7 linked regions of the Homo sapiens genome follow. The protein of the gene in region 1 interacts with the protein of each later gene in a pairwise test. Each region holds a gene or a part of one and is shown in the gene's direction. Other genes may lie near its edges.

Evidence for each region.
Region 2: the proteins of GDAP1 (region 1) and TMEM218 interact in binary tests that used the Homo sapiens proteins (3 or more experiments, as listed by UniProt).
Region 3: the proteins of GDAP1 (region 1) and DCBLD2 interact in binary tests that used the Homo sapiens proteins (3 or more experiments, as listed by UniProt).
Region 4: the proteins of GDAP1 (region 1) and APOD interact in binary tests that used the Homo sapiens proteins (3 or more experiments, as listed by UniProt).
Region 5: the proteins of GDAP1 (region 1) and FAM114A1 interact in binary tests that used the Homo sapiens proteins (3 or more experiments, as listed by UniProt).
Region 6: the proteins of GDAP1 (region 1) and MSH5 interact in binary tests that used the Homo sapiens proteins (3 or more experiments, as listed by UniProt).
Region 7: the proteins of GDAP1 (region 1) and STARD4 interact in binary tests that used the Homo sapiens proteins (3 or more experiments, as listed by UniProt).

The regions. Positions count from the first base shown.
Region 1 is NC_000008.11:74,360,403-74,363,889, forward strand, and holds part of GDAP1 (ganglioside-induced differentiation-associated protein 1), read left to right. Parts: intron 1-1,481; coding exon 1,482-1,576; intron 1,577-1,861; coding exon of another isoform or gene 1,862-1,972; exon of another isoform or gene 1,973-2,417; intron 2,418-2,536; coding exon 2,537-2,651; intron 2,652-3,487. UniProt on the Homo sapiens protein: Regulates the mitochondrial network by promoting mitochondrial fission.
Region 2 is NC_000011.10:125,094,627-125,098,126, reverse strand, and holds part of TMEM218 (transmembrane protein 218), read left to right. Parts: intron 1-386; coding exon 387-521; 3' UTR 522-3,500. UniProt on the Homo sapiens protein: May be involved in ciliary biogenesis or function.
Region 3 is NC_000003.12:98,818,196-98,821,695, reverse strand, and holds part of DCBLD2 (discoidin, CUB and LCCL domain-containing protein 2 precursor), read left to right. Parts: intron 1-1,407; coding exon 1,408-1,448; intron 1,449-2,278; coding exon 2,279-2,494; intron 2,495-3,500.
Region 4 is NC_000003.12:195,573,941-195,577,440, reverse strand, and holds part of APOD (apolipoprotein D precursor), read left to right. Parts: intron 1-3,469; coding exon 3,470-3,500. UniProt on the Homo sapiens protein: APOD occurs in the macromolecular complex with lecithin-cholesterol acyltransferase. It is probably involved in the transport and binding of bilin. Appears to be able to transport a variety of ligands in a number of different contexts.
Region 5 is NC_000004.12:38,943,523-38,946,239, forward strand, and holds the end of FAM114A1 (protein NOXP20), read left to right. Parts: coding exon 1-35; 3' UTR 36-2,217; downstream 2,218-2,717. UniProt on the Homo sapiens protein: May play a role in neuronal cell development.
Region 6 is NC_000006.12:31,746,505-31,750,004, forward strand, and holds part of MSH5 (mutS protein homolog 5), read left to right. Parts: intron 1-882; coding exon 883-928; intron 929-3,500.
Region 7 is NC_000005.10:111,495,536-111,499,035, reverse strand, and holds the end of STARD4 (stAR-related lipid transfer protein 4), read left to right. Parts: 3' UTR 1-3,003; downstream 3,004-3,500. UniProt on the Homo sapiens protein: Involved in the intracellular transport of cholesterol. Binds cholesterol or other sterols.

The DNA.
Region 1 (3,487 bases):
ATTGGGAATAGGGTTGTTGAGTTTGCTTCATGGATGTGCATGTTATGGATCGATCCATGAACCAGTCGGATTAATCTGTGCTTCACTTGCTCAATTGGACATTTATTGTCTATAGGACCTGATTTATCAGCTCTTGGCTTTGAGGGCCAATCTTGGGTAAAACTCAGAAGAGTGGATTATGGAAGAGTAAAGAATATAACATGTTCTCATGAACAGATGGACTAGGAATCTGAAAACCTGGGATCTGCCTAGGATTATGGGCAGTTGAGTTCATGTTACTGGTCCTTAATTGTTGTTTTCGTTATTTGAGGAAACTGGACTAGAGGGTGTCTAACTATTACTCTGTCTCTATGTTCAGTGATAGTAGATTTATTGGGATTGAGTTGTGACATCCAGCTTTCTGCCTTCCTCCTGTCATGAGAATAGTCAGTGCATGATCTGTGGAGCAGGAGGTGTGCTTTATAGCAGAGATAATTGGAGATAAGAAGGGAAAGGATTGTGGCAGTGGTCACACTTTGGGAATGTTGATCAGAAACACTCAAACTCAGATCTTCTAAATCCAGAAACCATGTGTTCCCCATTATGTGATACTCACCTTTATTATTCTTATTATTCTTTTTTTCCTTTTTGATACCCCTCCTTTTCCTCTCCTCTCCCTTCCCTTTTCATCTCTTCCCTTTTCTCCCTTCTCTTCCTTTTTCTCCACTGCCCTCTCTTCCTGCTTCTCTTTCCTCTTATTCCTCCTCCTCTTCATAAATACCCTTTATAGTATTTGAAACAAGAGTTTTGACTATAATTCTATGACCTATAGTTAATATTTTTTAAAAATAAGGCTTTTTCCTCCCTTCATATAGGAGTTCATTATAGAAAGCTTGAAAGGTAGAGGAAGGCGGAGCAGCAAGCCTGCACTGAGCACTGTAAAGTGCTGGGCCTTGCTCTAAGTGCTTCCCATGAAGCTTCTCATTTAGTCTTCATGGCAGATATTCTTTGTTTTTTTCTTTTCTTTTTTTTTTTGGATGGAGTCTCGCTCTGTTTCCATGCTGGCGTGCAGTGGCATCATCTCGGCTCACTGCAACCTCTGCTTCCTGAGTTCAAGTGATTCTCCTGCCTCAGCCTCCCGAGTAGCTGGGATGACAGGCATGCGCCACCACGCCCAGACAATTTTTGTATTTTTAGTAGAGACGGGGTTTCACCACGTTGGCCAAGATGGTCTCGATCTCTTGACCTCCTGATCCTCCCGCCTCGGCCTCCCAAAGTGCTGGGATTACAGGTGTGAGCCACCGCGCCCAGCCGGCAGATACTCTTATGGTTCCATTTGAAAGGTGAGGAAACTGAGGCATAGACAGGGTAAGCCCAAGGCAGAGAAGCAGGGCATGAGCCCCAGAGCTCATGCTCTTGTCATTGAGTTTCTCTGCTTCTCCTTGTTACTGGTGTAGAAGGGAGAAAATAATTTTCTGTTTCCAAAATGTTTTTATTATCAGGCCAAATTGGAAACACAGAGTCTGAGCTGAAGAAACTTGCTGAAGAAAACCCAGATTTACAAGAAGCATACATTGCAAAACAGAAACGACTTAAAGTAAGCCAATCAGCTGTCCTCAGTTGACATACACTGCACGGAGTAAATGTTCTACTTTTTGTAAAGTACCACTATTTCTAGAATATCTTCTTTTAAATATTGCAGTTCACCAGTACACATGTTACCTTTGGCTTATGTTCTCCTTTTAGAAAGAATTTTTTATTAGACTTGATATTGAAACTTGATGACAAGTGCTTAACAAGCAGATATTGAGCATGCTGGTTGCCAAAAAAGTTATGAAATGCAAAGGAAGTTCATAACATATTCTAGAATCTGTCATTTCAGGTATTCCACCACTGGAAGTCCTCGCTAGACCTACATCCCTCCATGTGTCGCCCTGACTTGCTTTGCCCCCTGAGGAGTGTGCTTTATGGTCAGCCTTTCTCCTTCTGTTGATTCCTTCCCCGGGCCCAGCAACTATTGCAAGCTTCTCTCATATTAAAAGTGTAGAAAACAGCAGCACTCCCAACCCTCCCCAACTTCCCACCTTCCTTTATCCTATCGTAGCTAAACGAGCTCCTCAGAAGAAACACCTGCACTCACAGTCACTTGACTGACTCTCCACTCGCCGTTTAACTCCTTCACTCGGACTTCTTACTCATCCCTGACCCTTCAGCTACTCTTTCAATTACGGCTGCTAGAATTCTTTTCCTGAGTTGGGCTTGGCAGATGGCTCTTCGTGTCCCTCCCATTCTTTGCCTTCTGTGGTCATCTGGCCTCATAGGAGCTGCCAGTGAGTGGTGGGTCTGCTCCTGGGTCATTTTCACAGCTGGGATATTTCCCTTCAACTTAGCTCTCTCTCTCTCTTTTTTTTTTTTTTTTTTTTGCTGAGTTTTTCTATTTCTTCTCGTTGTCTAAAATAGGCTGAACTCTGTAAGAGTTTGTATCTGCTTTACCTAGATTTATTTTTTTTAAAGGTGCAAATAATATGTTTGGTTTCTTTTTTTGGTGGTTAATTAGTCAAAGCTGCTTGATCATGACAATGTCAAGTATTTGAAGAAAATTCTTGATGAGTTGGAGAAAGTCTTGGATCAGGTTGAAACTGAATTGCAAAGAAGAAATGAAGAAACCCCAGGTAGGTTCTCATTTATATTCTTTCTCTCTTTTCAACATCAGTATTATTCATGGGAACATTCTTAGGTCTCACCAAAAACGTTCTGTAATCTGCTTTTCATTGTTGTTATTCACAGGCAGTTTTAATTATGATAGCAATAATGATATTGCACCCAGAAAAACCCAGGTGTCTAATTGTAACTCAATCTGCATCTACGTGAAGGATTTTTCTGCATAATTTAAATTATGCTTGGGAGATTTTTACCTGTTTTACAAATTTGTAATTACAGTAGTTAGTTTGGTTGAATAACTTGAGTAATTGCTTGAATATTCCCTCTAGTTTTTTCCTTAGGCAGGGAGACAGCCTCCAATCTAAAGTGTAATAAGGACCAGCACGTGGGCATCTGTAGACTGGCTGGTAAGCATGCCAGTGAACTGGCTTCAGGGTTAAGCCATAGGTGTATACACATGGGCCATTTATGCTACTCCGACTAGAGTTGAAGACTATGTTACCTGTCACAAAAGCTCTTCTGCTTTAAATGACTAAGAGCAGTAGCCACTGAGTGATGTTTCAGACTCAGCTTTATGGATTTTTCTAAAGCAGAACTGTTTTTATAAACCAGAAGGAAGTTTCTTTTAACTAGCTTGGAGGCTCCCAACCCCTTAGTGTCCTTTACAAAGTGATAAGCTCAAGTGGCTGCAATCTTACATAGGGACCTGGATGGCTGACAGACGTCAAGCAAGTCTCCTTTGGCCTAGGATACGTTTGCATGGACTTTTTTTTTAAAGCATGAAATTATTCTCTGAGTGTGGCTGTCAAGAAAATAAATATATAATGTCCTTCATCTTTTGCTATAC
Region 2 (3,500 bases), on another chromosome or scaffold:
TGTATGTTTAAAATTCTCCGTAATAAAATGTATTTTAGCAACAACAAAAATGAGCCTTTCTAGGACCATGCAAAAGCTTCTCATTAACTCTTTCAGGTAACAGATTTCAGAATATAAAAGAATTCATCCAGGGACTTCAAAGTGTTTACCAACATCCTAAATTGAGCCATTTGTTCCCTGTCCCTCATTAATCCCTTCTTGTGTCTCCTGCTCAGGGAGTTGAGGAAAAGATTCTTTTTTCTCATGTACAGAGGAGACTCAGGGCAGGATGTTACTGGAAGTTATACACATGAACTAACTCTTGGCCCACTCATCATGGAGTTCAGGTTAACCCAGCCAGGGTGTCTAACTGGTAGTAATTTCATTTTGATGTTTTCTTTCTCCAGATTGTGGATGACTTTTTCATTGGCCGCTATGTCCTGCTGGCTTTCCTTAGTGCCATCTTCCTTGGAGGCCTCTTCTTGGTTTTAATCCATTATGTTCTGGAGCCGATCTATGCCAAACCACTGCACTCCTACTGACCACTCTTCAGGAAAACGAAAACCTGTTCTCTCCTTCATTGTGATGACATTGATGAGCAGGAAGGCACTATTCAGAGCCTTGTTTTGACAGCCCTCATGCCTTAAGGTTAGAGGAGTATCTGTCCATCACTAAGACAAATCTCTGGAGTCCTGGCTTCCAGAAACAGGATTGCCAAATTGTCCCTGTGGGGCTAGATTCTTACCAGCTTAAGAAGGATATTGCTATCTTCTTAGTACCCGTACCTTAGGATTTCCAACTGTTTTGAAAGGGAAATAGTAACAGTGATCTGCTTAGAGTGGATTTTCACTCAAGTCCTTAGTAAGTGGATTTTGGGGAAAAAAGCACCTGGGCTTCTGGTTCTTTTTGATAATATATAAAATTATTCATTATGAGGTTGCAGTTGTTTGCAAAGGAGAGGCACTCAAATTTGAAAGGTTATTTTAATGTGATAATTTGGAAGACTTACTCAGATGTTGGTCATTGACCACTCTGTGCATATATTTCTGCAGAGCTCTGTGAAGGCAATGAGTGTCACTTCCCTCTGCTCTAATAAAGCAATAAATAATAGCTAAAGGGCTGACTTTCACTTCGAACTCTTGGCCACGGCTTTTTAATCAAGTTCTTTAGGTTTCCTTGGGATTAGAGGAAAGGTATGGAAATATTGTTTTTTGTTTTTTGTCTTGCCATGTATCTGTAGGTTTTTTTCTTCCATGATGTGGTGGGCTGTGTGTGCCTTATTTAATTACCATGAGTCCATTTTGGGGTGTCTTCACTTTTCATCTTTGTAGCCCTTTCTCCAAAGCTAGTGAGGAAGGTATATTCTCAACATCAGATATAACTCTATACCTGTCTGATCTCCCAGACCAAATGAAATTTGCATTAAATGGAGGGGCCCTGGTCAGGTTCCACTTTGGAAGTCTGATCCTGACTCCCTAGAGCCATTTGAAAAAGAATCTTCTGGCTTAAAATTAAGAACCAAGAAAACAAGTTGGAAAGAGATCACTGATGGAGTATGTGCTCTATGCCAATAGCACACTAATTCCTTTGAGGTTTAATTTATTTAATTTTTACAACGGTCTCATTTTTATCATCCCCACTTTAAAGTAGAAAAAATGGAAGCTTAAAGAGATCAGCTGACTTGCCCAACCTTCACCTAACAGCCAGTGTGCAAACCCAGGTGTGGTAGGCCCCAGGGCTTGTCTCAGAGAGAAAACACACTAGGGTTTGTGGAACTCTGATTGAGAGCTTCAGGTAGGTTAAGGCCACACTGTTCCTTCACTTTCTCTCCTCAATTCTGTTTTCAGGGTAGAGAAGTTACCCAGTCCTGCCACCCCACAGGCAACTAAGCTCTAAATTCCAAGAAGAGAGAACAGGTAACCACTGAGAGTCATGGGCTGGTGAGGGCCAGGTATAGTTATCCCTACATTGAACCATTTCCTTTATCTTACTTAGTTTGGAAAAACTTTGCAGATAAGGCTTTGTACAGAAAACTTCAAAGGAAATAGTTTCCTAATCTGGCCTAGGGCACACAGGTAAGAAAAGAAGAAACATCCTCTAAGCAGATTGAGGGAGAGAAAAAAGAATGCATAAGTCTTGAGGGAATTGAGACAAGCTGGGGGCCTCATGCTATTGTGAGTCTCCCTGCAGCCCAAGTGGAAGCTTGGCTCCTAACAAGCACAAGCTGCCAATTGTTACCTTCTTCTGAGAGCCTTGCTAAAAAAGTAACTCTGGGAAAACTCTTATAGGTTCCTGACCATGAATCCATCTTTTTTATTCCCCCCAAAAGTTATTCAACTATTAGATCAATGGATAATAACTATGAGGTTTTGGGTGACTATTTAGATGGAGGAAAGTGTATTAAGGTTGGAAACTAAATTCTATCCTTAATACTACTGTTTTCTAATTTTTGTTTTTTTGCCTGATGTAAATGAAAGGCATATATGTTAAAGATTGGCTTTAGGAAAAAAAAAAAAATACCCTGTGCAAAGTTTATTTCAGCTTGACTTGACCTACAGTCTACAGACCTGGAGTCTATAATTACCAGCTGTGGTGAAATGAATGATAGATTTCTTTCTACCTGCATACTCAATGCAGTTATGCAAAAAAAGCCCCGCAGGGTTGGGATAAGACGTAGAAGGCTGAGAGGGCTCAAAATGGATTTCACTGAGAGTTTGGCATGGGATAACCCTATAGTCAATGTCTGTTATGGTACCCTGTATGCTCATGGCCTTCTTGGAGACAGGGCTCAGAGGTCATTCCTTAAATACAGACAGAAGTCATCTTAGTGTTCAGAACCATTCTGTGATCAGTGGCCTTAGAACATGTTCCCTCTACTGTTCCCTACCCAGAGGGGATCCTGTGGCAGACTGGTGATCCCCACTGTTTAGAAGGTGGAGAGGGAGAGTAAATCTGGGTTTCTATATAAGAAAATAGGTTATTTCGTGGCGTCTTAAAATTGTATCCTGACAAAAGCTGAATTAGGAGGATACCACCCTATCCCCACAATGGAGATCACAATGGGTAATTTGTTAAGTTCCTTAAATTTTTCACTGATAAAAATGGAAGTAAAGCTACCATTCTTTGTGTACAATGTAAATTTAATGTAAAACTGCATCAGAATTACCATACCAATGTCCAGGGACTAGGGAGTACATAGCCATTCATTCTCGAATCCTGCCATTCATTCAGCATATATTGTGTGCCCGTAGGGTGTAAAGCACTAGTCCTGGTGGAGTAAGCCCATGGAAGAACTAGGCTGTAAGGTGTCTAGACTGTCTTCCTCACTGCTTCCTGGAAGGAGGGCATCCAATTTATTTTTAAATGTTTTTATTCTAACATAAAGCAATCCATTTTTTGTTCTGTTATTTAACAGAAACTTTAGTATCAACTCTATTTCATGGTTGTTGCAGTTGAAGTGTTTCTGGTTTATTTTTTGCTCAATGTGTAAAGAAACCTGCTGTGATTATTTTACAGATGAG
Region 3 (3,500 bases), on another chromosome or scaffold:
TCATTTGGAAGAGTAATGTGTTTCTTCTGTCTTTTCTAAGTGTTAAAAAAAAGTCTACATAAGAGTCTAGAAGTTTGTTGCCAAATCCTTATTTATTTTACAGATTGAAAGGCTTAACTACTGTGTTCCTTATAGCACATGGGGATTCAAGATAATTGAAATACTTTAAATATAAATTTAAGTTTGACATAAAGTGTTACATCATAAGCATTATTGTGAATCTTCCTTTCATTCTAAGAGAATATTTTGAAGATGTATTTTCATGGTAACTATAGTGTTCTACTGTTTTATAAAACGTAGGGTAGGCATCAAAAGCAAGAGAAATTGAAACATTAAATAGAAATGCAGTGTTAGCAATCTGTTTTTATAAATCTTGTCTCTTAGATCTGCTCAGTCTTTCAGACAACACTAAGCCTAATTGAAACCAGCTTTTCTTCAGAGGTCCTAGGCCAATTTTCATTCAGAAGACACAAGCATCATCCATATCCAGATTGGTATACAACAGGATTCAGCAGATTTGTTCTGTAAAGATCCAGCTAATAAATATTTTAGGCTTTACAGGCCACATGTCGCTGCAGCTTATTCTTTTTTTGTTTTATTTATAGCTCTTTATTCTTAACTCACGGCCCATACAAAACAGGCCATGCATGGGCAGTCATTTGCCCATCCCTGGTATAGATTCAACTACCTTCCCTTCTTTTTTTTTTTTTTTTTCTAGATTATTTTATGCAGACCCTTTCATTCCTTTACCATGTTATACCTTTAGAAAGATTTAGTGTTTGTGAATTCTCTCTTTCATACTTTAAAAAAGAAAACAGGGATAAATTGCATCCTCTTGTAATGGTTTGTATGTTGGACTAAAGGCAGGAGTGTACACTGAAACTTCTTCCATGAGATGTTGATTTCTCCTAAAAAAAAAAAAAAAAAGAAAAAGAAATCTATTAGTACCCAACTTTTCTCATGTTTATCCGAAAAAACTTGAGCCTCATTCTCTGAGAATTAGACCTTTTAGTGTATTTTCATCGAAAGCATTTGCCACAGAAAAGTGTTAAGAATCCATTTATTTCATGAAATAAAGTAGTGAGAGATTGACAGTAAACAATGAGTAAATACATATGAAAAAGAAGTACATATTAAAGATTACATAGAGAACTTTTGCACAATCACATATGAAACTGGGTGCTAGATACTTGTAGAGAAAGCTGTTTATGCTGATTTCAGAAGTTGTCCTGCTTAGAAATGAGACTTTTTTCCTAGGAACAATATTAGTTGTCTAATTTTTAGCCACACAGTCTTCTTGGTTCTTTTATTGGGTGGGGGGAACCAAATCAAAAGAAAATGTTTCACTAAATATGGGGCATCATGTGTTATGTGAGTATCACCAAAAAAAACCCTTCTCTCTTTCAGGGGACACTTATCTACAAGTCTTTTTACATTTAAGACAAGTGGTAAGCCTTTTATGGACTTTATAATTTTTTATTTATATAATATTTTTTGAACACTGTTAGGCACTGTGTCAGTTGCTGATTTATTGTACTTTCTCACGTAGTTGTCTTAATAACACTATGAGGTAAGATAGTTATCTAATAATATAATGAATAGAGCAAATTGAAAGTTTTATATTTATAGAGAAATGGTCATGTAAGCAAGGAAGGTTCCTTAAGAAAGATGACTTTTGAACTTGTCTGAAGAAGTAATCAATTCGTTCAACAGAAAATACTTACTGAGTGCCTTCTCTTTATGTGCCAGGCATTGCTCTGGTTCGAGTGATAGAGTAAAGTGAACAAACTCCTGCCTTCCTGGAGCTTACATTCTAGTAGTGAGAGATTGATGATAAGCAATGAATAAATTTCTGTTTATAATGTACTGTTTACAATATGATAAAAGATGTAGGAAAATAAGGAGGACTGGATTGAAGTTGGGAAGGGCCTTCCTCCCAGGGAAGACCTCAGGGAGAATGCAACATAGGCCAAAAACCTGAAGGAGGTAAAGGAGTGAGTTACTCAGTTATTTGGGAAGAGTGTCCCAGGGAGAAGATAATGTATCTCCATTAAACTAACAGTCATGCTTATAAATGAGCATGTTTGTAGGTTTCCTAATGATACACAAAGACATATGCCCAAGAAACACTTGCCTAGTTTTGAAATTTCTCTGTTACAGTGTATTATTAGTGTAGTGTATGTTAATTAAAGATGGAATAGAAAGTTTTCAGTGAGCAGGTCTACATGCATTTTGAAATTATACCTGGAAACCAAATTTAGTCTTTTCTTTGTTTCAGGATGTTATGGAACACTGGGGATGGAGTCTGGTGTGATCGCGGATCCTCAAATAACAGCATCATCTGTGCTGGAGTGGACTGACCACACAGGGCAAGAGAACAGTTGGAAACCCAAAAAAGCCAGGCTGAAAAAACCTGGACCGCCTTGGGCTGCTTTTGCCACTGATGAATACCAGTGGTTACAAATAGATTTGAATAAGGAAAAGAAAATAACAGGTTAAGAGACAAAAATTTTCTAAAGCAATTTGTAACACTTATTTTATTTGAAAAACTAGTAACATCTAAGATTTTCAGAGAAAATTAAGGCATTAAAATTGTAATTATATGGTTTTATATTTTCTTCACTGATGTTAATATTACTAGAGACACATTTTATGAAACATGGCAGAGAAAAGGAGTTATTTGTGTTGGTCAGGGTTCTCTAAAAGGACACAACTGATAGGACAGATGTATATATAAAGGGGAGTTTATTAAGGTGTATCGACTCACATGATCACAAAGTGAAGTCCCACAGTAGGCCATCTGCAAGCTGAGGAGCAAGGAAGCCATTCCGAGTCCCAAAACCTCAAAAGTAGGGAAGCCAACAGTGCAGCTTTTAGTCTATGGTCAAAGGTCCAGAAGTCCCAAAGCTAAGAACTTGGAGTCTGATGTTCAAGGGCAGGAAGCATCCAGCATGGGAGAAAGATGTAGGCTGGGAGACTTAAGCCAGTTTAGTCTTTTCACATTTTCTTCTGCCTGTTTTTATTCTGGCCGTGCTGATGCAGATTAAATGGTGCCGACCCAGATTGAGGGTGGGTCTGCGTGTCCTAGTCCACTGACTCAAATGTTAATCTCCTCTAGCAACACCCTCACAGACACACCTGGGAACAATACTTTTCATCCTTCAATCAAGTTGACACTCAGTATTAACCATCACAGTATTTAATTCGTAATAGCTTTTTGTTTCCATTGTAATGAGACTCTTTTTTTAAGGTAGTGTTTCAGTAAAGTGGTCTTGAGACATCTAAAATAACGGTCTCCTACAGTCATTAAGAGAAATTTATGTTAAAGGAGTCCATTTTAAATGATGAGATCATTAATTTTCCACATGTGGAGAGTATAAATTTAATTTAGGGGAACTTAGCAAATGGTCGGAATAATTGGTTGGGATTGGTTTAATTTTGTTAAAATATTTATTTTGTTTTGGTACTGTAAATAATACCAATAATCATCTTTAATCTGT
Region 4 (3,500 bases), on another chromosome or scaffold:
ATACAGATTGCATTAAATCTGAAGATCAATTTGGGGAGTACTGCCATCTTAACAATATTAAGTCTTCTAACTTGTCAACATAGTGTATCTTTCCATTGAATTAGGTCATCTTTAATTTCTTTCAACAATACTTTGTAGTTTTCAGAGTATAAGTTTTATGTTTCTTTGGTTAAATTTATTCCCAAATATTTTATTCTTTTGATGTTATTGTAAATGGAATTTTCTTCTTTTTCTTTTCTTTTCTTTTTTTTTTTGAGACGGAGTCTCACTTTGTCACCCAGGGTGGAGTGCAGCATCACCATCTTGGCTCACTGCAACCTCCGCCTCCCGGGTTCAAGCAATTCTCCTGCCTCAGCCTCCCAAGTAGCTGGGACTACAGGTACACGCCACCACACCCAGCAAAGTTTTTTTGTATTTTAGTAAAGACGGGGTTTCACCATGTTGCCCAGGCTGGTCTCGAACTCCTGAGCTCAGGCAATCCATCCGCCTCGGCCTCCCATAGTGCTAGGATTACAGGTGTGAGCAAGCCACCGTGCCCGGCCTTTTAAATGGAATTTTCTTAATTTCATCTGCAAATTGTTCATTGCAAGTAGAGAAATATGTTTATATATGTATATATTTTTGTGTGTGTGTGACAGAGTCTTGCTCTGTCACCCAGGCTGGAGTGTAGTGGCACCATCTCAGCTCACTGCAACCTCTGCCTCCCAGGTTCAAGAGATTATCCTGCCTCAGCCTCCCGAGTAGCTGGTATTACAGTTGCGTGCCACCATGCCCGGCTAATTTTTAAATTTTTTATAGAGATGGGGCCTCGCCATGTTGGCTATGCTGGTCTTGAACTCCTGACCTCAAGTGATCCACCCGCCTCGGCCTCCCAAAGTCCTGGGATTACAGGCATGAGCCACTGCGTCTGGCTGAGAAATATATTTGATTTTTGAATATTAATCTTGTATCTTGTAACCTTGCTTAACTCATTAGATCCAATAGTTTTTGGTTTTGTCTCTGTTTTAGATTTCTTAGGATATTTTATATGTCATCTGCAAACAGATAGAGTTTTACCTCTTCTTTTCTAGGATTATTTTTCAATACTGACCAGAGATCTGAAAAGATTAAGAAGCCTTTGCAAAAATAATATGAGATCATAAGGAAGCTCTGAGTTTCCTCTTTTCTGAAAAATCATGCTTCCTTGGTTTTTACTATGGGGCACTAAACTCACTTTAACAGAAATAGAACAGATTTGAATGCACCATAGAAAATGGAGCTTCTTCCGAGAATGTCTATGAAACCAGTTAACCTCTAACCTTATTCTTTGGTACTTTAAATGAATGTTAAGTTCAGTGGCTTTAATTGAAAGCTGTGCTTTAATAAGTGAGTAGAACTTTATGGTCATGAATGTGGCATACATTTGAGCGGAAAGCCGTGGCTGAAGCAATACTCACCTGTGTGCAGCATCCTCTCTTTTCAAGTTCTGACTCTGAAGGTGAGCGCATCTCTTTTTGTTTTTAAATTTCTAGAATAGGCCAGGCGCGGTGGCTCACGCCTGTAATCCCAGCACTTTGGGAGGCCGAGGCAGGGGGATCACTAGGTCAGGAGATTGAGACCATCCTGGCCAACATGGTGAAACCCCTTCTCCAGTAAAAATACAAAAATTAGCCGGGCATGGTGGCACGTGCCTGTAATCCCAGCTACTCGGGAGGCTGAAGCAGGAGAATCACTTGCACCCGGGAGGCAGAGGTTGCAGTGAGCCCAGATTGCACTACTGCACTCCACTCTGGTGACATAGTGAGACTCCATCTCAAAAAAACAAAATTCTAATTAGTATTTTAACTAGATAAATATATTTACATTGTTCAAAATCCTAAAGGTGTAAAAGAATACACCACATAAAGTTTCCCTCCCACCTCTGTACCTCAGTTTCCCTCCCCAGTAGCAACTAGTAAAAACCATGTATTATGTAATTTTACAGATAATATATACATATACAAGCAAATACTTAATAACTGTGGTAAGCAGAAGAGTGGCTTCCAAAGGTGTCCACGCCCTAACCTTGTGAATGTTACTTTGCATGGGAAAAGGGCTTTTGCAAATGTGATCGAAGTTATGAGCCTTGAGATGGCCAGATTAGCCTTGATTATCCAGGGGAACTCAATCTAATCACATAAATCCTTAAAAGCAGAGAATCTTTCCCAGCTGTGATAAGAGAGAGAGGTTTGATGATGGCATAAGAGTCAGAGAGATGCAATGTGAGAAGGATCTGACTTCCTTTTGCTGGCTTTGAAAATAGAGGAAGCCTCAAGCCAAGGAATGTAGGCGGCCTGTAGAACTTGGAAAAGGCAAGGAAACTGATCCTCCCCTAGAGCTCCCAGAGGGAAACACAGCCAACACTTTGAGTTCAGCCCAGTGAGACCTGTCAGACTTCTGACTTACACAACTGCAAGATAATAAATCTGTGCTGTTTGAAGCTTGTGCTAATTTATTATAGCAGCAACAGAAAACCAACGTAATAAACATTTTCTCCATTTTTACACAAAAGGTGCCTTAATAGATACACTATTTTGTACCTGACTCTTTTGTCATTAAATATTAGAAATCACTGCATACCACTCTTTTGAAAGAGGAAGTAAAATTCCATTGTCTGGATATGCCATCGTTTACTCACCCAGCCCCCTACTAATGCTCACATAGGCTGTTTCCTATCTTGTATTATTACAAACGGTACTGTAATGAATAACTTTACACATACATCATTTCTTATATCAGGAGGATGCATTCCCAGAAGTGAAATTGCTGGGCCAAAGAGTATAATATGTATTTTTAGCTTTGCTAGATATTGCCAAACTGCCCTCCGCAGAGGTTGTAAACTGGTATGGTCTCCCTGCAACGCGTGCCAGGCAGCCTAGGAGGGCCTGGTTCCCTCGACCTTCCCCACACAGTGGCAGCTTCCTTTAAAGCTAACTGTATACACCTGAAGTCTGGACTGAGCGCAGGCCCCTAGAGAAAGCATGATACAGACCTTTCAAATCCCCACCACCTCTCCAAAGCCTTGATGACTAAATCCCTCCTCAGGGTCAGATGAGGAAAGTTCCGTGCGCTCTGGAGTCCTAGCTCCCCACAGCGAACACATCTGACTTTGCACAGGATTCAAAGATGACTTGTAGAATTGTGCACTGTTTCAGATGAAAGGTATTTCCCATCATCCCCTTTTTTTACAGAGTCTAGAATGTCACAGCGATTTTGGCTGAAGTGGGCCCTGAGAAGAGCCCTTTACTCAGCATTCACCCCCTGCCCGCACATCCCATCCTAGTCACAGATTCTCATTGCAATCAATCTCTTGCCCAGTTGCCACTGGGAACAATGAGGCCCATTTTGTCTGGCTTCCCCAGGACAGGGCTCTGCGTCTGCACGACAATGGGGAAGAAGTTGCAGGTCCCCAGAGAACCACAGGGTTTTGCTCTGCTTGTTGTCTCTGCAGTATCTCGGAAGATGGTACGAAATTGAGAAGA
Region 5 (2,717 bases), on another chromosome or scaffold:
ATATCCAGACCAGTTGTTTGAAAGCACAGCCGTGACCTGGCCAGACTCCATCTAGTTAAAGGAGACAGCTGGCCGCCTTGCCTCAATATGTACCATTTAAGGGGATGTTCTCTGTGCGCCTGGCCACAGACATCCATTTGAGGACACTACAAGCAATTTTGCACAGACAATATTGAGAATGCAAATTTAGAGAGAGTTATCATTTCTCTCAATGTGTATAATTGTTTTTACAAACAATTGTGTTTTCTTTATGTTAATTTAAACTTACACAGCTTATATTGAAAATTTCCTTTCATCTGAAATTTATTTACAAATATTCGTGTTCATTTTCCTGGTTAAGCATGCTATATTTAGAAACTCATGGGGAGACCTTAGACTTTTGTTTAATCCTTTATGTTTCAACCTTTAAATGTTCCATTCTTATAGTATTACTTTAAATCAATTCTAAAACTGAACTTTGTTTTGTTACATAAATGTCGCAGGCAAAAATAACACTACTTATAGATTTTACCTATTATGGTAAAAAATAGGAACATATTGTCATTCTTTTTTTTTTTTTTTTTTTGAGACAGAGTCTCACTCTGTCGCCAGGCTGGAGTGCGTTGGCACAATCTCGGCTCACTGCAACCTCCGCCTCCTGGGTTCAATCGATTCTCCTGCCTCAGCCTCCTGAGTAGCTGGGACTACAGGTGTGTGCCACCACGCCCAGCCAATTTTTTTTGTATTTTTAGTAGAGACAGGGTTTCACCATGTTGGCCAGGATGGTCTCGATCTCCTGACCTCGTGATCTGCCCGCCTCAGCCTCCCAAAGTGCTGGGATTACAGGCTTGAGCCACCGCGCCCGGCCGGTCATTCATTCTTGCAACAAGCATTTATTGAGCACCTACTGTGTGCTCACAGTAAAGAAACGTGATCTTATCCCAGTAGAGGTAGATATTCTGAAAAAGAATAATTCTTAAACTGCTTAAAACAGGGGTCCCCACCCCCAGGCCACAGACCAGTACCAGTCCGTGGCACTGGTTAGGAACCAGGCCACACAGCAGGGGGTGAGCGGTGGGTGAGTGAGCACAGCTTCATCTGTATTTACAGCTGCTCCCCAGAGCTTGCATTACTGCCTGAGCTCTGCCTCCCGTCAGGTCAGCAGCAGCATTAGAGTCTCATGGGAGTGCGAACCCTGTTGTGAACTGCACATGCGAGGGATCTAGGTTGTGCACTCCTTATGAGAATCTAATGCCTGATGAATCTAATGCCTCATGATCTGAGGTTGAATAGCTTCGTGCCGAAACCATCCCCCACCCCCATCCCGCTACCCCGAGTCCGTGAAAAAATTGTCTTCCATGAAACCGGTCCCTGGTACCAGAAAGGTTGGGGACCACTGGCTTAAAATACCAATAAATTTTTGAACCTTAAAAACTTTGAAGAACAAGGTAAATTGGTGTTTTATTTAATGTCCTACCCTTTAATTTGTTGCATTTTCCTATACTCTTTACACTATTTTATCCCAAACTATGTATATGAGGTGAAAATATATATGAAAAGGGATACTGAAGAATATTTAGTTTAAAATTAATTTCTTACGATCACGAGCACATGGTGGCATAATTACAAAGCTTGGAAGTATTCAAATAGAAAATCAAAGGTGTTTCAATACAGTAGAATCCCAGGACTGCATTTTAAAATCGCCTCACAGATCACACTCGCTGGTGGCAAATATCATCATCGTTGCTAAAGGACAGAAAATACTGATGTGTGTTTTAACTAACTGGTATATTGATCCATGGGAGGCTGCACAGAAGACCCTGCGGCCAGGAGGGGCATTGTCAGTGGCTGCTTCTCCTGAGCTCCACGCCTTCATTGCAGCTGCATGTTCGATACAATACACCTGCTTCACAGCCCCATGGACATCCCTACAGGTACTGTCATGTGAAGCCTTGCCTAGTAGTTCTCTCCAGGGCAAATGAAGCTCACAGTTTTGCAAGGTGGAAACCTCTTATTCACATTTGCTTTGATTCCCCGATGGAGTAGACTGCCTTTGTTCCATACAGGCAAAGTAAGGATATTTTAATATCATCCTACTTCTTATTAGCATTTCATTTGTCTATGTACTGTATTTCATTTGTATGTCTCCTGAAACATCCAAATAGAGAACATAAGAACACTTTATGTACAATCTGGAAAAAAATTACCTGAGAAATCAATTAAAGATTTTTCCCCTTTTCTGATTGCCAGAAATGTTTTTATTAAGTCTAGAGAATGATTAACTGATGAAAATGTTGCATTTACCTCTTCATCAATTTTAGACTTTTTATGTGTAGGGCAGAGGAAATGATATAGATTTACAATTTCTTCACATCAGTTTTTTGTTGTTTTTTGTTGTTTTGTTTTTTGCATCAGATGGGTTTAGATATTAAGTGGAAATGTAAAAGAGAAACAAGTGGCAGGGCTCAGTGGCTCACACCTGTAATCCCAGCACTTTGGGAGGCTGAGGTGGGCGGATTACCTGAGGTCAGGAGTTCGAGAGCAGCCTGGCAGACATGGTAAAACCCTGTCTCCACTAAAAATACAAAAAAATTAGCCGGATGTGGTGGGTCGCGCCTGTAGTCCCAGCTACTCGGGAGGCTGAGGCAGGAGAATCGTTTGAGCCTGGCTGGCAGAGGTTGCAGTGAGCCAAGATACACCACTGCACTCCAGTCTGGGCGGCAGAGGGAGATCCCGTC
Region 6 (3,500 bases), on another chromosome or scaffold:
TTAGGCTCACTGCAACCTCCGCCTCTTGGGTTCAAGTGATTCTTCTGCCTCATCCTACCTCAGCCTCCTGAATAGCTGGAACTACAGGCCTGCACCACCATGCCCAGCTAATTTTTTTGTATTTTTAGTAGAGATGGTGTTTCGCCATGTTGCCCAGGCTGGTCTCAAACTCCTGAGCTCAAGTGATCCTCCTGCCTTGGCCTCCCAAAGTGCTGGGATTATAGGCATGAGCCACCCTGCCCGGCCAGCTATTGAGTTTTTGTATTTTTGGAGGGGCGGGAGGGCTCTTGAGTTTTTTGTGTTTTGTTTGTTTGTTTATTTGTTTCGTTTTGTTTTGAGACGGAGTCTTGCTCTGTCACCCAGGCTGGAGTGCAGTGGCGCGATCTCCGCTCACTGCAAGCTCTGCCTCCCGGGTTCATGCCATTCTGCTTCAGCCTCCCGAGTAGCTGGGACTACAGGTGCCTGCCACCATGCCCGGCTAATTTTTTGTATTTTTAGTAGAGACTGCGTTTCACCATGTTAGCCAGGATGGTCTCGATCTCCTGACCACGTGATCCGTCTGCCTCGGCCTCCCAGAGTGCTGGGATTACAGGCGTGAGCCACCGTGCCTGGCCAGTTCTTGAGTTTTAACTAGGTCTGCTTTGTGTATTTTTCTGGCTAAGTGTCCCTGTGAGTGTCCATCCCTTCCCCCATCTCCATGTACGGTAATCCCAGCTCATATTTGTGGCCAGGCACCAGCTTTGGCTGCCTTTGTGCCCTCCCAGGCCAGCTTCCTCAACAACCAGCACCTCTGACCTGGATGCCTCAGCTTAGACACATAAACACATTCCATTCCCTGTCCCTGCCTTGTAACAAGTTCACTCCCTGCCTTATCCCTCACAGGAATCCTCAACAGATGCCACTGTAAGTGGGGAGAGAAGCTGCTCAGGTGAGTGGGTCCCACACATACTACACACTAATGCATGAATTCCATATGCACACTACATACTAAAGCCTACTAATGGCAGTATACAGATTCTCACATACACCACCCCACCTAGTAGTAGTAAAGCAACTGCCCTTTACTGAGCACTGGCTAACTGCATTTCATCCTTATAACAGCTTTGTGTAGTAGCTGATATGCATCTCATTTTTTGTTGTCAGCGCAGGTACACATATACCCATTGATGATACACAGACTTGCACACATACAAGCAGCAGGAAAAAACACAAAATGTAAGGCCGGGCACAGTGGCTCACACCTGTAATCCCAGCACTTTGGGGGGCCAAGGTGGGTGAATCACTTGAGGTCAGGAGTTTGAGACCAGCTGGCCAACATGGTAAAGCCCCATCTCTACTAAAATGCAAAAATTAGCCAAGCGTGTTGGTAGGTGCCTGTAATTCCAGCTACTCAGGAGACTAAGGCAGGAGAATCGCTTGAACCCAGGAGGTGGAGGTTGCAGTGAGCCAAGATTGTGCACTGCACTTCAGCCTGGGCAACAGAGTGAGACTCCGTCTCAAAAAAAAAAAAAAATGCTAATGTAACACATGGCTATGTTAGCATGGTTATCTTTAGTTATAGAAAACACACTTCACATTTCTGTGATGACTCTCAAATTTGTGTCTCTAGTTTTGAACTCCGTATGTGAATGTTAATTGCATATCACCACCTGCAGTTTTCACAGGCAGCTCAAACTCAGAGCATCCAAACTGATGCCCACCAGATCTGTTCCTCTTCCTGCATTCCCTTTGCTGGTTAATGGCATTGCTGGCAGTACACCTTCTCAAGCCATGAACCTTGGATTGATGCTAGAAACAAAAAACCTGTCATTCCAAAACAGAGATCTAAGCATGTCACTCCTTTTTTTTTTTTTTTTTTTTTGTGACTGAGTTTCGCTCTTGTTGCCCAGGCTGGAGTACAATGGCACGATCTCTGCTCACTGCAACCTCCACTTCCCGGGTTCAAGCAATTCTTCTGCCTCAGCCTCCCAAGTAGCTGGGATTACAGGCGCCCACCACCACACCTGGCTAATTTTTGTATTTTCAGTAGAGGCGGGGTTTCACCATGTTGGTCAGGCTGGTCTCGAACTCCTGGTGATCCGCCCACCTCGGCCTCCCAAAGTGCTGGGATTACAGGCATGAGTCACTGCGCCTGGCCGTCACTCCACTTTTTAAATAGCCTAAGTAGAAAGAAAATAACATAAACCTTAGGAGGTTTTCCCATTACCTTCAGGATTAAGATTAGCATCTTAAGCAGTATAATGATGTTCAGGGTCCATCACGTTTACCCCAGTTTTAATTTCCAGACTCACCTTCCAAAGCCCCTTCTAAGTCCTTTCCTACTGGATCTACCTTATATTCTAGTCATTTAGGGCCACTTGCCATTATGGAAACATGTCATGCCTGTGTTTATGCTGCTCCTTCTGGAAAGTCTTTTTTTTTTTTTTTTTGAGACGGAGTCTCCCTCTGTCACCCAGGCTGGAGTGCAGTGGCGCGGTCTTTGCTCACTGCAACCTCCACCTCCCAGGTTCAAGCAATTCTCCTGCCTCAGCCTCCGGAGTAGCTGGGATTACAGGGACCCACCACCATGCCTGGCTAATTTTTGTATTTTTAGTAGAGATGGGATTTCACCATGTTGGCCACGCTGGTCTTGAACTGCTGACCTCGTGATCTGCCCACCTCGGCCTCCCAAAGTGCTGGGATTACAGGCATAAGCCACTGTGCCCGGCCTGGAAAGTCTTTTCCTTGTTCTGTACCTATCAAAATCTTACATCCAGGTCAGGCGCGGTGGCTCACGCCTGTAGTCTCAGCATTTTGGGAGGCTGAGGTGGGTGGATGATTTGAGGTCAGGAGTTCAAGACCAGCCTGGCCAACTTGGTGAAACTTCACGTCTACCGAAAATACAAAAATTAGCCCAGCATCATGGCGCATGCCTCTAGTACCAGCTACTCAGGAGGCTGAGGCAGGAGAATTGCTTGAACTCGGGAGGTAGAGGTTGAAGTGAGCCCAGATTGCCCCACTGCACTCCAGCCTGGGCAACAGAGTGAGATTCTGTCTTAAAAAAAAAAAAAAGTGCATCCTCTTCAAGGTGCAATCCAACTGTTACCCTTTGGCTTTTACAGGTACCTGTAAGGAGTTGATGTGCACCTTCTTTGTGCTCACATAGTGCTTGTTTATGTTTTTCTAGTTGCACTGTCACATCATGTTAGAATTAGCAGTCAGTGAATCTGCTTGCCTCCATAGCTATGAACTCTATCTAGTAGCTATACCTGTTACCTCAGTGTCTGACACATGGTCTTGTACATAGTAGCACTCAATGTGTGAACACAACGCAAATGTAAACGCACTGGTGACATCATCTCTAAACAGAGTGGAAACCTTTGCTAGCCTCAGGTGCACAATCCTTCCCCTACCTCACCTCCCGCTGCAATATGTATCTTGTAGGAGTTAATTTAGGATAATCTCTGAGGTCATCTCCAGGTAATCAGCATCTCCAGGAATCGGCAGGGTAATTTAATTAC
Region 7 (3,500 bases), on another chromosome or scaffold:
TCCTGTGTCTACTGTTTTGTTGTTGTTAATATGGGTAAAGTGAGCCCTGAAATACATGCTAAACAAGACATGAAATGCAGAAAGGTACATAGTGTTTCAAGTGCATGGTAGTTTGATCTGTGTTTTACTTTATTGTGTTTTCTTGAGTGTAAAGAAAGAATAAATCAAAGTTCTTCATACCCATTTTGACAAAGTGGAACAGTGGAGCTGTTTTTTGCTTTTGTTTTTATTTATTTTTTGCCACTGGTGATGATAGATTTCAAAAAACAAAAGGTGGCAGCAGCACAATGTTCATGGTGAATTATCTCATAGTATCTAGATTGATCAAGATCTGACAGAAGGAATGCACAAAGGATTCTATATTCTTAATGATTTATTAATTACCAGGATCCTTTTCTAAATTGAATGTACTTTTGAATTACTAGGTTTCTTCTTTTTTTTTGTTCTGCAATAGTGAAAGAAAACTCAGTAGTTTAGTTTCAGTTTCTCATGGAAATTGGTAAATGTTAGTTTTGACTTCATCTATTTTTTATTTGTTTTTATTAGCGTAGAGTAGGAAGTCTCATATTCTACTGTTCTATCTAGGATGGTGAAATTCCAAAGGTGCCTAACTTGAGTAAGGGATTTGTGACAAGATAGTACACATTACTATAAGGGCTATTATTTCCTGAACTGGATGTCCCTAAAAGCAAATAAACTGCCCACTATCTCTACTCTAGTGCTCTCTTTGTCCTTATCAACATATACCTCCAATAAGTAATTACATAATTCACCGTTAAACATGGACCCACTCTAGGTAAAATTACCCTCATGGAAACATTTTCACTGTGAGAATGATGAATTTAAAAATTATGTTTGAATCACCTAAAATGTATGTGCAGCTTCTAGATGGCCCCTTAGATCTGCTGGGCTCTAGCTGTGTACTTTAAAAAAACAAAAACAGCTTTATTGATATATAATTTACATATTATGTAATTTACCCACTTTTAAGTATCTAATTCAGTGATGTTTTAATACATATGTAGAACTATGCAGCCATCAGCACAATCTGGATTTAGAACGTTTCCATCATTCCAAAAGATTCCTTTTGTCTTTTTTGCAGACTCATACCTAACACAAATCTAAAGTTTATCACTGTTGCCAGGATAATTACAGCAGGTTATGTTTGGTTTCATTTTTAAGAGTGGAGGTGTTCATGATTCTAAGCTCAGGAATCTTGTGATCATGTATTAAATATGTTATCTCATACTATAATGATAAAAAAGCTTAATGATGTGGGTTGGGATGGATATTAACATAAATAATTGAGTCCGCTGCTTCTATAGCAATGCTGTAGGATAGAACAATAATGTAAGTGATATATGTAATTAAAAAATTCTAGAAGCCACATTAAAAAATAAAAATAAACAGCTGAAGTTAATTTTAATATTTTATTTAACTCAATACATCCAAAATGTTATCATTTTAACATGTAATTGATGTAAAGATTTATTCTGATAGTTTGTACTATTTCTTGTACTAATTTTTTGAAATCTGGTATGCATTTTACAAATTTGGGCAAGCCACATTTTAAGTGCTCATTAGCCACATGAGGCCAGTGGATACTGTATTGAATAGCACAGTCCTATAGCATATTTATTAATTTGTCTTGTAGTAAGATGAAATAGACAATAATACGGAATAATATCTTAAATGGAAATCTTTGTTAGTCTCTAGAGCCTTCATTGCTTGATAAATAGGACATCTAAACTTTAGATATAAATCAGTTGTCAATGAGATAAAATTATTGCCAGCAAATATTTTCCTTCAAAGATAAGTAACTTTTGATATGGCAGTTGGTGAAATGAAAGAATATAATCTGCCTTCTTGTTAAATGGTTGACTATTCTGTAGCTTGTAGGTAGTACGTATTAGAAACTTGTGTATGTGGGAAATATTTGGCATAATACTGTTTTCAGTATATAGTAGCTATTTTTTAAGGAAATTAGTTTCATACAAGAAAAAGATTATTATAAAAGTGATACTTTTGCATGAAATATTAGTTTGTGTTGATAACTCTTAGTTAACCCTTAAAGTTTAAAACAGTACTCAAAAAAAAATAATGAGAATCTAGTATTCTGTAGTTAACTAATCTATAAGATAAATTGCTAAAGTACTAGGGAGCTTGTAAATCTTAAAAATCTTTTTATTTCAGTGTTCATTCAGGTTGGATATATTTGAAATTGTAGATTTCTATCTGTACAACATCTCCTAGTTAATAGAATTTTTTTCCTTCCCCTCCCTTCTCTCTCCTCCTCCTTTTCTAACCAAAGGGCATTTTATCAACAATCATGCTGAATTCAATTAATATCTCAAGCTAAAAAACTATGTAATTGAGGTTGTATCTGGAGAAGATGGGAAAACATTGTATAATTTAAGCCCTTAATTGTCTGTTGAGCTTTTAGGGCTGAGTAATTGCCTTTCATACAAATAAAAGCTTTAACTCTTTTCTCAAGAGTGTACCACCGTCCTTAGAATCAGGTGTTTTAAATCCAGTTTCTTTTAATTAAATGGGACTGTAGTGATCCCTACCCTGTAGAGAAATCAACAGAACTAGAGAAGCTAAGGGCTTGATCAGGTTTCCCCTAGAACCTGTGTTGCCTGCCTGCTGTATCTTCCATGTCTTTCTTATTCAACTTCTAGAAGTAGAGAAGGTTGGGACTTGAGTGTAGAAGAAACATCAGAATAATTTCAAAAAACAGGAAGTTGGAACTATAATTTTTAAATTATTGTATTGTTTTTACGGATTTTACATGTATAGTTAAATATTAAAATTCATCTCTTGCAGTTCAATAAAAGCTATAGTATAGATTTTATTTTTAAGAAGTTTATATAATTCTTTTGTGAACCAATATGTAAAACTAGAATATTTATTAAACTAATAATATGTATTAGTATCAATAAAATATGTATTTATTTTTAAATTGGTATGAAACAAAATAAAAATTTGTAGACACTCTTAAAATTGGTCATTGATATTATCTTTGTAATTTAACATTAAGTACTATTTAGTTTCATATGCCTGAATTTAAAGTATGTAATTTAACTTCCTGAATTCTTACAAAAGGAAAATATAAACCTGGAAAGTCAAATTAACAACACACATGCTGATCTCTCCTGCCAGTGTCTCATATAATATTAGCTGTTATACAATACTGCTGAAACTTTATTTGCTATTATATATTCAGAACAAATAATATATTGTGCCTTTGTAAATTATGGACAGGATTTATTGTACACATGTTGAAATAATTGTGTTACCTTGATTAGGAATTATGATATTTTGTTTGGAATTGAAAAAAACTAAAAGTGATTACAAGGACACCCACGATCTATGTTATAAGAAGGCAGTTAGGGATGCTGTGGTAAGTATGTAATAGAAAATATGACTGTGAAGCAGGGAGTTACTTTCCTCATTTAATAAAACATCTGGTACTATGGTTTGAATATTTGTGTTCCCCT